4 separate regions of the Homo sapiens genome follow, and regions 1, 2 and 4 are each linked to region 3. Evidence: fine-mapped expression QTL. A gene starts in region 3. Each other region holds a variant in brackets. All regions are shown on one strand. Distances are from middle to middle. Region 1 overlaps MACROD1 (mono-ADP ribosylhydrolase 1). Region 2 overlaps MACROD1 (mono-ADP ribosylhydrolase 1). Region 3 holds the start of TRPT1 (tRNA phosphotransferase 1). Region 4 has its middle 4.9 kb from the start of MEN1.

Region 1 (2,698 bases), 99 kb before region 3:
TCAGCACCTTGCCCTTCCCAGGGTCACTGGGGCCCAGCACAGTGCCTGGCACACAGGGGTACTCAATCCTTTCTCTGCCACCAACGGAACGAGGCCGCCTCCTCCTCTCACTTCCTCCCCAGTTGCCATCTGCCCACTCATTGAGGATGGCCCAGGCACGAGTGTTGGCAACAAACAGGCTTCTCTCGTCCTGCTCCTGCCCCGCCAGCAGCTGGCACAGAGAGGGGCTCATCTCAGCAGCTTTACCTCTTGGAAGCACCTCGCTCCACCCTGCCTTGGATCCACGTGTTGCCAGCTGTGAGCCAGATGGAGAAATGTAGCCACTCTGAGAGATCCGGTGGCTGCCCCAACCTGTGTCAGTAACTCAGTTTCCCTTCTCCAAGACTTGCCTTGAGTGGATGACAAGGGGGAGAGAACTGGGGGAGGGCCCCACAGAGGCGCTGCAAGAAATCCAGATCCCAGGCGACACCTGCTGCCTTGCCTGCTGCCCCCGCAGAATCCCTGCATCTGGAGCCACCCACCTGGAGGAACTCATCGGGCTTCCTCTGTAGACGGGAAAAAACAAACGCACCACAAACCGACAATCAAAGCCATGGCGGATGCGGGGCCGCCACCAGTTCATCTCCCTGGAGCCAGGCGGCTCCAGGCCTCTCTCACCTTTCTTGTGTGGAACGCAGGCTTGCAATGTTCTGAGCCCACCTGTCCTCGGGCTAGTCCCATTTTCAAAAGTTCTGAGTACGCAGGTGAGAAGACACCCCCACAAAACCCCAAAACTAGCCTTAGGCTGTTTTTCCCCAACACAACGCACCTCCACACCCCACACCGCCAGCAGCCCACCTGGGTACCCAAAGTGAGCCGCCAGGGGGTTCCGAGGACCCTGCCTGGTGCCTTCCAGCTCATAAGGAGAGGCCAAGAGCCATGGGGAGGAAGCCACACGGCCCAGCGCTCAGGGCTTGTCATCCAAGAGTGAGAGAAGTGGGGAGAGAGGTGACGGAGGGTGGAGTGGTGTGTGGCGTCGAAATAGGCTAGCCAGAGAGAGAGGTGCTTGTGGGATTCTGCTGGCTGGAGCCAGGAGGTAAGTGTGAACAGGGAGGCCAAAGATGAAAGTTATCTGAAAGAGCCCGTACCCCCTATAAACACGGCAGAGGAATGTCTTAAGAGCCACCAACAGTAATTCCCTTTCCGGATGTTAACAGGTTATTTGTATCTTATGTGGTGTCGTAAAGCATTCTGGAGTGGCACACAACGTCATCCCCTTCCCGGTGGTCTGAAGAGGAGGAGGAGACCAGGGAGGGGTCCTTGGCCAGCCCCTGGCGGCCAAGGGGTGGGTCCTTCTGCTCTATAGAAGGCAGGAAGCCCGCCAGCTAACCGCCCGGGTCAG[A/G]GGGAGCAGGCCTGATCTCTCCCAAGCCTGTGACCGAGGTCCTGCCTGATGTCCAAGGGGCCCCTGTGCCAGTACCCCCACTTCCCACGCCCCCCAGCCTTCCTCACCTCCAGAATCAGCCGCCCAGGTGCAGCACTATCTCCTTTCTTTTTCTTGGAAGCCGTCTCAGGGGCCTGAGTGACGGGCCTGACCGTCCCCGCTACCGCCTGCTGCCATGCGACCAGATGGCTGACCCGGCCCGGCTTCTCAGGGCCCAGACCAGCCTGGCCTCGTGCCCACCTGCTTCGCTCCCAACCTCACCACCAGGCAAGGGTTTCCAGAAAACCGAGACACGCAAACACCCACCACCACGACAACAACACAAACCAAAGTGCACTGCGAACCGCCCTTTGGCCTCCTTCTTGTAGGTGCCTTGAAACTTCAATGTTGAGATGAATGTGATTAACTACTTGGTCCTATTTTCTGTTTGTCTATTTTCATAGAAAATGTCCAAGTCCACTTGCCTTGTTCTTTCTTGAAATAAATAGAAAGATTTAACTTTTACGGTCATCTCTTGCTGCTGACTCTCGGCTTGGCACCCCATCGGGCCAGGGGCCAGGTGTCCGGGGCACACGTGGTCTCAGCGGCCCACCCCCTCCCCGGGCCTTGCCCCCGAGGCTCAGCCCACCCCCTCCCCGGACCTTGCCCCCGAGGCTCAGCCCACCCCTCCCCGGGCCTTGCCCCCGAGGGTCAGCTCTGTTCTTGGGGTGCCCTGGCTCGGAGGCGGTGACCCGGCAGGATGGAGACTGTTCCCTCCGGCACCATCCCAACCAAAATGATTCCGCTGCAGGAAGAAGGGCCCTCTGTCCCCACCCACAGGCCCCAGAGGTCTACTGACACCTGAGTCACCACAAGGGGACCCAGAGCTGAACCAGAGCTGAACGTAGACTCCGAGGGGTCTCTACATGGAGAAGTATGTGTCAGCAGGAGCTATGGGTTATCCTGGAAGAGGCTCCAGCAACCAAGTGGCTCCGGGGTAAAAGTGGGACTGTCCGGGTGTTTGGGGACATGAGCTTATGCCACCACCCCAGACGCCCCCCATCCCCTAGATGTACCCATTACACTCACAGCTCTGGAGCCTCATCTGCCTCTCTCACATCCCAAAGGGAGGGGGACAGGAAGGAACAAAATTTCCATGAGAACAATAGCAGTCTCTGCTAAATTTAACATAAAACAAGAACTCATTACTTCTGCCTGAGATCTGATTTCATGTCTGGATACAGTTAACGGGTTTTTCCTTATATTCCAAAGAAGCAAAGTTAATTCTCAGTGGCCGGT
Region 2 (2,698 bases), 130 kb before region 3:
GGTGAATGGATAGATGGATGGATGGATGGATGAATGAATAGAGAAATGGTGAGATGGAGGGATCGAGAAATGGAGGGAGAGATGGAAGGATGGAGGGATGGATGGATGGAGGGGTGCACAAGAGAGCCTCAGGAGAAGCCCAGGACCCCTCAGTGCAGTGTTTGGTGGATGGTCCGTTTCTCTTGCGCTGTCTTGGAGTAGTGCAGCAAGAAGGAAACTGGCCTGGAGTTTGAGGCCCTGACACTGCTACAGGTTGTATAACCCTGCACAAGTCCTGCTCCCTCTTCTCAGTCCACACAATGAAAGTGGTCCTCCCTGACCTGCTAGCCATGCTGTCTTCCCAAGCTCAGGGAAGATGGCAAGGCAGAAATTACTGGGAAAGGACAAGGTGCATTGTCCCCTGGCATATATGTATGGGCAGATTCGGCCAAAACGCAGAGGGTGGTGCAGAGATGTGAGATTGGGCACTTGGCTTTCTTTCCCTCCTTTCAAATTTCTTTTAATACAGTTGTGATGTGATTGACGACAACAAAAGTAGAAAATTGTGTAAGCATCTCAAAGTACTTTTACTCAAAATGGAAGCTTTTATGATGTTGACTCAAAAAATGGTTTATTGGTTTTGAGCACAGAGACCAGACCTGGAGCCTGTGGGAACGGGGGAGGCCAAGGCGAGGAGTGTAACCACTAACTTCACACGGCATGGTCTCCACTCACTCGAGCCAGAAGGGTGGCCACTGGGGGTGCTGTGGCTCTGGCGGGAGGTGTCTGCCAGGCGCACGCATTTACATATTTATTCTTGGGCCTCCTTTGGTTCAGTGAATGCAGGTGGCTACTAATGATCATCATTATGCGCCCACACAAGGGAAGAGCCACAGTGCTGCTGGAGAGCTCACACCTCCCAACCACTGCCAGCCAGACTCACTTGGAAAACCAATACACACCCCAGAAGCCTGAGAGGCCCCACTTATCCAGGGCACAGACGCTGAGGAGCCCAGTATCCCAGCACTGGGGTTCCAGGAGGCTCTGCAGGCCCCAGGGAAGGTGGGGGTGGGGGCTGCAGCAGGGAAGGTGGACTGAGGACATACAAAGCTGGACGGGCACCAAGAGCCTCACTTAGTGCCTTGGTTTTCTAAATGAGGGAGCAGATGGAGAGTTTGGTGGGTGCATTTATTAAGCACCAACTGCATGCAAGGCACTGAGCCAGGTGCTGGGGGATCCAGCCTCAGGTCCTCCCTTGAAGCCAGGGAGA[C/A]AATTCTTTTCATGCTCCGTTGTTGCTGTCATGGTTCACAGGACCACACAAGCCAAGCAGAGGGTGGCCCATTGCAGGGAGGGAGGGATGACGTCTGCATGGATTCTTACAGAAGGGGAACAGTACAGTGAAGGGCCAGGCTGGAGCCAGCTCAGGGCATTAGTGGGCAGTAGTGGGAGACACGGCTGGTGGGCTGGGCAGGGCCCTTGGAGACTACTGTAGGAGCACTGCCTCTATCCTGAGAGCTATGGGACGCTCTCAGGATAAAGCCGAGAAGCTATGGGAAGGGTCTGAGGTGAACACACCAGTGGGATGAACCTGCCTCCTTTTTGGGTTCTTAATTTCAAAAGCAGAGCTCAGTGGTTTCTCTCTTTATCGGGAGGCAGCGGCCACAGCTGACTGGAGCCTCTGGGCTCCCAGGACACGGCAATCATCCTCTCAAAATGCCAAGGCCCGCTGCCCCTGCCCCACCCCCATCGGTATAAAACAATTTCTGCGCCCCGGCCAGGGAGGCGGATGACCTCACTGGACTTTTTCCATCTCTCGCTTTCATGGAGAAATTACAATTTATAATTGGATGAAATCACGCGGGTGGTAATAGCAATAAGGGCTCGTGCTAGAGCCGGCCGCCCTCCCGCCGCGTGCAGGGACTCTGTCCTCATCTTCCCTCCTGCGTAAGCCCCACCGTACCCCTTCCAGGGCCTGTGCCCCACCTGTAGTATTCACCAGGCACTGGCCATTCAGAATCGATGTCCCGTGGGGCTTGCTGGCTCTGAAACCTCCTTCTTCCTAGGGCAGCTTGTCCCAAGAAAACTCCCCCTGCCACCCTGTCCACCCCATCAGACTCAGCCTGCACACCACCTGGCTGGCACACACCCTTCCCAAATGCCTTCCCTGCCAGGCTGTGAGCCCCGTGGGCAGCCACCCCCCATCTGGGTGCTGGGCTTATTAAAACATGAACCCTAATATCCCTGTTTTTATTTGTAACGGCCTCTGACAACAAGCATTTCTCAAATCAGCCACCTTAGGCCCTACAAAGAAAAGTGCCCAGATGCAGCTGAGCCCATCTGGATCTGATTTCAAACCAGAGTGAGCACTCTCAGATGTGTAATAAAAGCCCTTTTCCAAAGAGGGGTTCCTGCAGGGGGAATACAGACACCAGGGCGCCGCGGCCCTTCCACATGCCGCACTAATGAGAGGTGCTGGGGAGGGCTCGGGGTTTTGTTTTGGATTCCAGAACAGCCTGCCCTGCCCTCCGTCTGTGTGGAAGAGGAGGGCGGCTGCGGGTGTTGAGGACTGACCCCCCACCTAGGAAGTGGGGTGGGCACCAGACAGAGGCCAGAAACACGGAGACCCAACTTCCCCAGTTCCCTGATGGTCCTGCTTCCCATGGTGGGGAAAGGCAGTGCTTGTTCTGGAAGCCCAGGCCATGGCGGCCCAGTTGGAGCC
Region 3 (2,614 bases):
ACCACGCGCTGCACATCTTCAGCAGAGAAGCCGCGGAACTGGGGCAACTGCAGGAGGGTGCCCAGGGGCACGAAGCCATCTGTGGGCAGGCAGGGTGCTCAGGAGCTAACCTTGCTCTGGACTGGGCCAGGGTTAACAGGGAGCCACAGGCAACCGAAACAAAGTCTGGGCTTGGAGATCGCTTGGGCATCCTCTGTGGGACCTTTAGAAAGTCTCCCCTTTCTGGGCCGCAGTTTTTTCAACTTACATAAAAAGAGGATCTGCCTCACGGAGGGGCAGGGAGGTGAGTGCCCAGCATAGCGCTGGCCCGGAGTGCACACTCACACCACCAGCTGCACCGTATCCTCCAGGGCTCGCCCTCGGGGTAAGTGCTGATCTGGCTGCTTGGCTGGAGGGGGCGGTCACCAGGCCTGGCCCAGACAAGAACTCTCCTCAGTCTGCTGTGGACATGACAGGGGCTCTAGGCCTTGCTCTCCTCTGTGCATGGGGAGGAAGTGCACTCTGTGCCTTCCTCAGGGAGCGGTGGAGGCAGCCATCAGGGAGGAGTCGCAGACAGGCTCACGTTTCTCTCTGGGCTCAAGCCCCAGCCTCCAAGGCCCCTACTTACCAGCTCCCATGGGAAGCCCCAGCTTCAAGGCCCCATGGCGCAGGGCATAGGACAGAGCCTTGGACAGCTGCACGTCTCGGTCCTGAAAGAACCCAGCGGTGGCCCCTAGTCTCCATGGTGACCCTGCCCTACTGCCCATCCTGAACCCTCAATGACCCACTGCAGAGAGAGCCCAGAGAGAAAGGAGTGCCAGTGGTCTCCAGGAATAGTAGGACCCTTCAGCTCCGCCCCCCAGCAACTCCCAGGGAGCCTGGACTGGTGGGAGGGGGTGGGGAGGAGGCGCGCACCTGTTCTCGGGGTCTGGGAGCCCTTCTACCCCTGGACCCTGCTGCTTCCTGCCTCCCTCCTCCAGAGAAGTTCATGGTTAAGACCTGTGGGGGGCAGTGACGAGGGGGGACTGCTTTAAGGCCCCTTCCACGTCCCCATCCCTCCCAGAAAGTCACAAAGCCTCAGGAAGTGAGCGCTGGGTGGGAGTATACGGCTCATTAAGTTCACCACCCCCAAGTCCCTGCTGCAGAGAGGGAAACTAAGGCCCAGCAGGCCAGACTTGCCCAAGGTCACACGGTCAGCCAGGAGCGCAGGGAGGCCGAGCCCCGCACCCCAGATCGCTGGTGCGCCCCGCAGGGTGGTCCGGGAGGCAGGGCCGACGTGCCGACGGACCGGGCGGAAGCGTCGGGGCGGCGGGGACAAACCTCCAGGATCCTCGACCGCGGCGGACCCGCCAATGAAAAGCCGCGTGGAAAGGGGGCGGGCACTTCCGCTTCGGGGAAGGGGCGGAGCCTGAGGGACCCGGCGGCTGGTGAGCGCCCGCTGGAGGCTGGAGCTTCCGGGCCCTGGAAAGGGGTCCCCGCGCGCCCCGGGTCGGAGGCAGACCCCTGGGTTTGGGGGACATGGGCATTTGGGGCGCCTGAACCCAAGACCTCTGGATGGTAGGGATGCCCGGGCGTCCTGGATACCCTGCGGGACTCGGGGCTCCTGCGGGGAAGATGGCACGTTTTACTGCCCAAGGAGTGGTCAGGGGGGTGGAGAAGCGCTGCGGATACCCTCAGGAGGTCTGCGACAGAGGGGGCTAGCTGCGCAGCCCAGGAGTGGTAGTGGCCCCCCTGGATGACAGGCCTGGCCGTATCCTCCCCCAGAGCTGCCCCGTTCAGACCATGGATCCTGAGGTGACCTTGCTGCTGCAGTGCCCTGGCGGGGGCCTGCCCCAGGAGCAGATACAGGCCGAGCTGAGCCCCGCCCATGACCGTCGCCCACTGCCAGGTGGGGACGAGGCCATCACTGCCATCTGGGAGACCCGGCTAAAGGCCCAACCCTGGCTCTTCGACGCCCCCAAGTTCCGCCTGCACTCAGCCACCCTGGCGCCTATTGGCTCTCGGGGGCCACAGCTGCTCCTGCGCCTGGGCCTTACTTCCTACCGAGACTTCCTGGGCACCAACTGGTCCAGCTCAGCTGCCTGGCTGCGACAGCAGGGTGCCACCGACTGGGGTGACACGCAGGCCTATCTGGCGGACCCACTGGGGGTGGGCGCTGCACTAGCCACAGCCGATGACTTCCTTGTCTTCCTGCGCCGCTCCCGGCAGGTGGCTGAGGCCCCTGGGCTGGTGGACGTACCTGGTGGGCACCCTGAGCCTCAGGTGAGATTCCAGGCTGGGCACAAAGACCCAGACAGCTCAAGGGAGCTGCAGCTCTCCACCCTCCCAATCCTCCCAGCTTTGGTTTCCTCATTCCTTAAAGGGAAAATTGGCCTGGTATTTCTCTGGAAGTTTGCTCAGGGCAGTCCACCTGCCTCCCCACTGACCCCTGCCCCAGTCCTGTGAGAAACTAGAAAACACGGGAGGAAAGATTGGGCACAGGAAGAAGATGCCCTACTCCACCCCTGCCCCCTGTGTATCTCCTTTGAAGCTGGACCTCTGGTTGTCTGTCAGGGAAAGGACACCAGACTCAGGATCACTAACTCTCTTACACTGTGCCACATCAGACCCTCAAGGCCAGCAGGTATAGGCTTGC
Region 4 (2,698 bases), 590 kb after region 3:
GTGGTGGGTAATTAGATTTTCTCAGTGAAATAGGAAGCCCAGTGGGTTACCATCTTCTCTCCAGATGTCTACCGGGTTCCCCACCTTCACAATATTGCTCAAACGTCACCTCAAAAAGGCTGACACAGACCTGACCATTCTACTTCAAATCACACCCTCCACTCGAAATTCCTCTATCCATCCCTCAACCCTGCTTTATATATTTTTTTTCTTTTTGTTTTGTTTTTCTGAAACGGAGTCTCACCCTGTCACACAGGCTGGAGTGCAGTGGCTCGACCTTGGCTCACCGCAACCTCTGCCTCCCAGGTTCAAGCAATTCTCCTGCCTCGGCCTCTTCAGGTGCACTTCAGGTGCACGCCACCACACCTGGCTAATTTTTGTGTTTTTTTGGAGAGATGGGGTTTTGCCATGTTGGCCAGGCTGGTCTCAAACTCCTGACCTCAGGTGATCCGCCCACTTCAGCCTCCCTAAGTGCTGGGATTACAGGCATGAGCCACCGCGGCCAGCCCGCTCTACGTTTTTTTTGTTGTTGTTGTTGTTGTTTGTTTGTTTGCTTTGTTAGCATTAACACCTTCTAGACAGGGGCTCTGGAAGGAGGCACTGTTGACGCTTGAGGTCGGGTAATTCTGTGACTGGGGCTGTCCTGTGCATTGTAGGATGACGAGCAGCATCTGTGGTTTCTACCCACTGGATGCCACCAGTTCAGCTCCCGCAGTGGGGACAACTAAAGATGTCTCCAGATGTTGCCAAATGTCCCCTGGGATGCCAAAATAGCCCCAGCTTGAGAACCACTATTCTAACATATGATATGACCACTTTGTTTCTCTGTTTTGAGACAGGTCTCGCTCTGTTGCCCAGGCTGGTGTGCAGTAGTGCAACCATGGCTCACTGCAGCTTTGACCTCCTGGGCTCAAGGTGGTCCTTCCACTTCAGCCTCCGAAGTGCTGGGATTACAGGAATGAGTCACCATGCCTGGCCTGATTTATTTATTGTTTGTCCCCTACCACCAGAAGATAAGCTCTACAGGACAGGAAATGTGTCTGCCGTGTTCACTGATGTGTCCCCTGGGCCTAGAATAGTGTCTGGCACATAATAGGTGTTCAACAAATATTTGCTAAAGAATACA[C/T]GCATGCATGCAAAGCAGTAGGGTTTTTGTTTGTTTTTATTTTTCTATTGTTTTTTTATTTTTATTTTTATTTTTTTTGAGATGGAGTCTCCCTCTGTCTCCCAGGCTGCAGTGCAGTGGCACAATCTCAGCTCACTGCAACCTCCACCTCCCGGATTCATGTGATTCTCCTGCCTCAGCCTCCCGAGTATCTGGAATTACAGGTGCCCGCCACCATGCCCGGCTAATTTTTGTATTTTTAGTAGAGACAGGGCTTTGCCATGTTGGCCAGGGTGGTCTCAAACTCCTGACTTCAGGTGATCCATCTGCCTCGGCCTCCCAAAGTGTTGGGATTACAGGCATGAGCCATTGCACCTGGCCAAAGCAGTCATGATTAATGATTGACCTGGAATGTAGGCTGTGTGAGGAGGCATGTAAGGACAAGAGAAGGGTGACAGACAGCAAATGTGTAGTAATATCAATGGATTGCAGGTTTCTGTGGGGTCAACCGTCAATTCGAGTTGGGGTGCTAGAGTGGGCTGGAAAGAGAGTGGTGTTGGTTAGAGAGTAGGATGCTTGGCCAGGGGCAGTGGCTCACACCTGTAATCCCAGCACTTAACTGAGGCGGTTGAAAAATTAGCCGGGGGTGGTGGTGGGCGCCTGTAATCCCAGCTACTCGGGAAGCTGAGGCAGGAGAATCGCTTGAACCCGGGAGGCGGAGGTTGCAGTGAGCTGAGATCGTTCCACTGCACTCCAGCCTGGGTGACAGAACGAGACTCTGTCTCAAAAAAAAAAAAAAAAAAAGAGAGAGTAGGATGCTTGAGATTGAAATTATGGGGAGGGGGTTGTCATTATTGGCAAAGAAAAGATCTAGAGCAGAGCTTTCAACAGAAATATAACATGAGCCACAATACGATTTTGGCATTTCTAGCAGCTACTTTTTTTTTTTTTTGAGACACAGTCTCACTCTGTCGCCCAGGCTGGAGTGCATTGGCACGATCTTGGCTCACTACAACCTCCGCCTCCTGGGTTCAAGCAATTCTGCCTCAGCCTCCTGAGTAGCTGGGATTATAGGTGTGTGCCACCATGCCCAGCTAATTTAAGTAGCTACATTTTTAAAAGTAAGAAGCCGGGCACAGTGGCTCATGCCTGTAATCCCAGCACTTTGGGAAGCTGAGGCAAGAGGATCGTTTGAGTCCTGGAGTTCAAGACCAGGCTGGGCAATATAGTGAAACCCTGTCTCTAACAACCCCAAAAGTTAGCCAAGTGCTCACACCTGTGGTCCCGATTACTCAGGTCAGGAGGCTGAGACTGGAGGACCACTTGAGCCCAGGAGCTGGAGGCTGCAGTGATGCAGTGAGCCATGATCACGCCACTGCACTGAAGCCTGGGCAACAGAGTGAGACCCTGTCTTCAAAAAGATAAAAATAAAAATAAAAGAAGACAGAGGTGGAATTAATTTTAATCCTATATCTTGTTTAACCCAATATATCTGAAAATGCGATTTCAATTTGTAATAAATATAAAAATTATTGGGGCAGGCGCAGTGGCTCATGCCTGTAATCCCAGCACTTTGGGAGGCCGAGGTGGGCG

The links. PIP is the estimated chance that this variant, and not a neighbour inherited with it, causes the effect.
Region 1: its variant is fine-mapped to the expression of TRPT1 in skeletal muscle (GTEx, PIP above 0.99).
Region 2: its variant is fine-mapped to the expression of TRPT1 in skeletal muscle (GTEx, PIP above 0.99).
Region 4: its variant is fine-mapped to the expression of TRPT1 in testis (GTEx, PIP 0.94).

The regions. Positions count from the first base shown.
Region 1 is chr11:64,125,366-64,128,063 of GRCh38, forward strand. The region is part of intron 3 of MACROD1 (mono-ADP ribosylhydrolase 1); the gene reads right to left. Among named protein-coding and RNA genes, the nearest start is that of MACROD1, 39 kb to the right of the region's middle. The variant A/G (reference allele first, on the strand shown) is at 1,382.
Region 2 is chr11:64,099,816-64,102,513 of GRCh38, forward strand. All of the region lies in intron 3 of MACROD1 (mono-ADP ribosylhydrolase 1), which reads right to left. All of the region lies in intron 1 of FLRT1 (fibronectin leucine rich transmembrane protein 1), which reads left to right. Among named protein-coding and RNA genes, the nearest start is that of MACROD1, 65 kb to the right of the region's middle. The variant C/A (reference allele first, on the strand shown) is at 1,250.
Region 3 is chr11:64,224,892-64,227,505 of GRCh38, forward strand. TRPT1 (tRNA phosphotransferase 1) reads right to left here and starts at 1,295. Exons shown (of 8, transcript NM_001033678.4): 1 at 1,159-1,295; 2 at 895-978; 3 at 608-689; 4 at 1-79. The coding sequence starts at 969. NUDT22 (nudix hydrolase 22) reads left to right here and starts at 1,383. Exons shown (of 6, transcript NM_032344.4): 1 at 1,383-1,536; 2 at 1,744-2,241. The coding sequence starts at 1,762. RefSeq lists enhancers at 1-18, 201-923, 1,524-2,043, 2,044-2,561 and a silencer at 1,089-1,498.
Region 4 is chr11:64,814,111-64,816,808 of GRCh38, forward strand. No RefSeq gene overlaps it. Among named protein-coding and RNA genes, the nearest start is that of MEN1, 4.9 kb to the left of the region's middle. RefSeq lists an enhancer at 666-775. The variant C/T (reference allele first, on the strand shown) is at 1,127.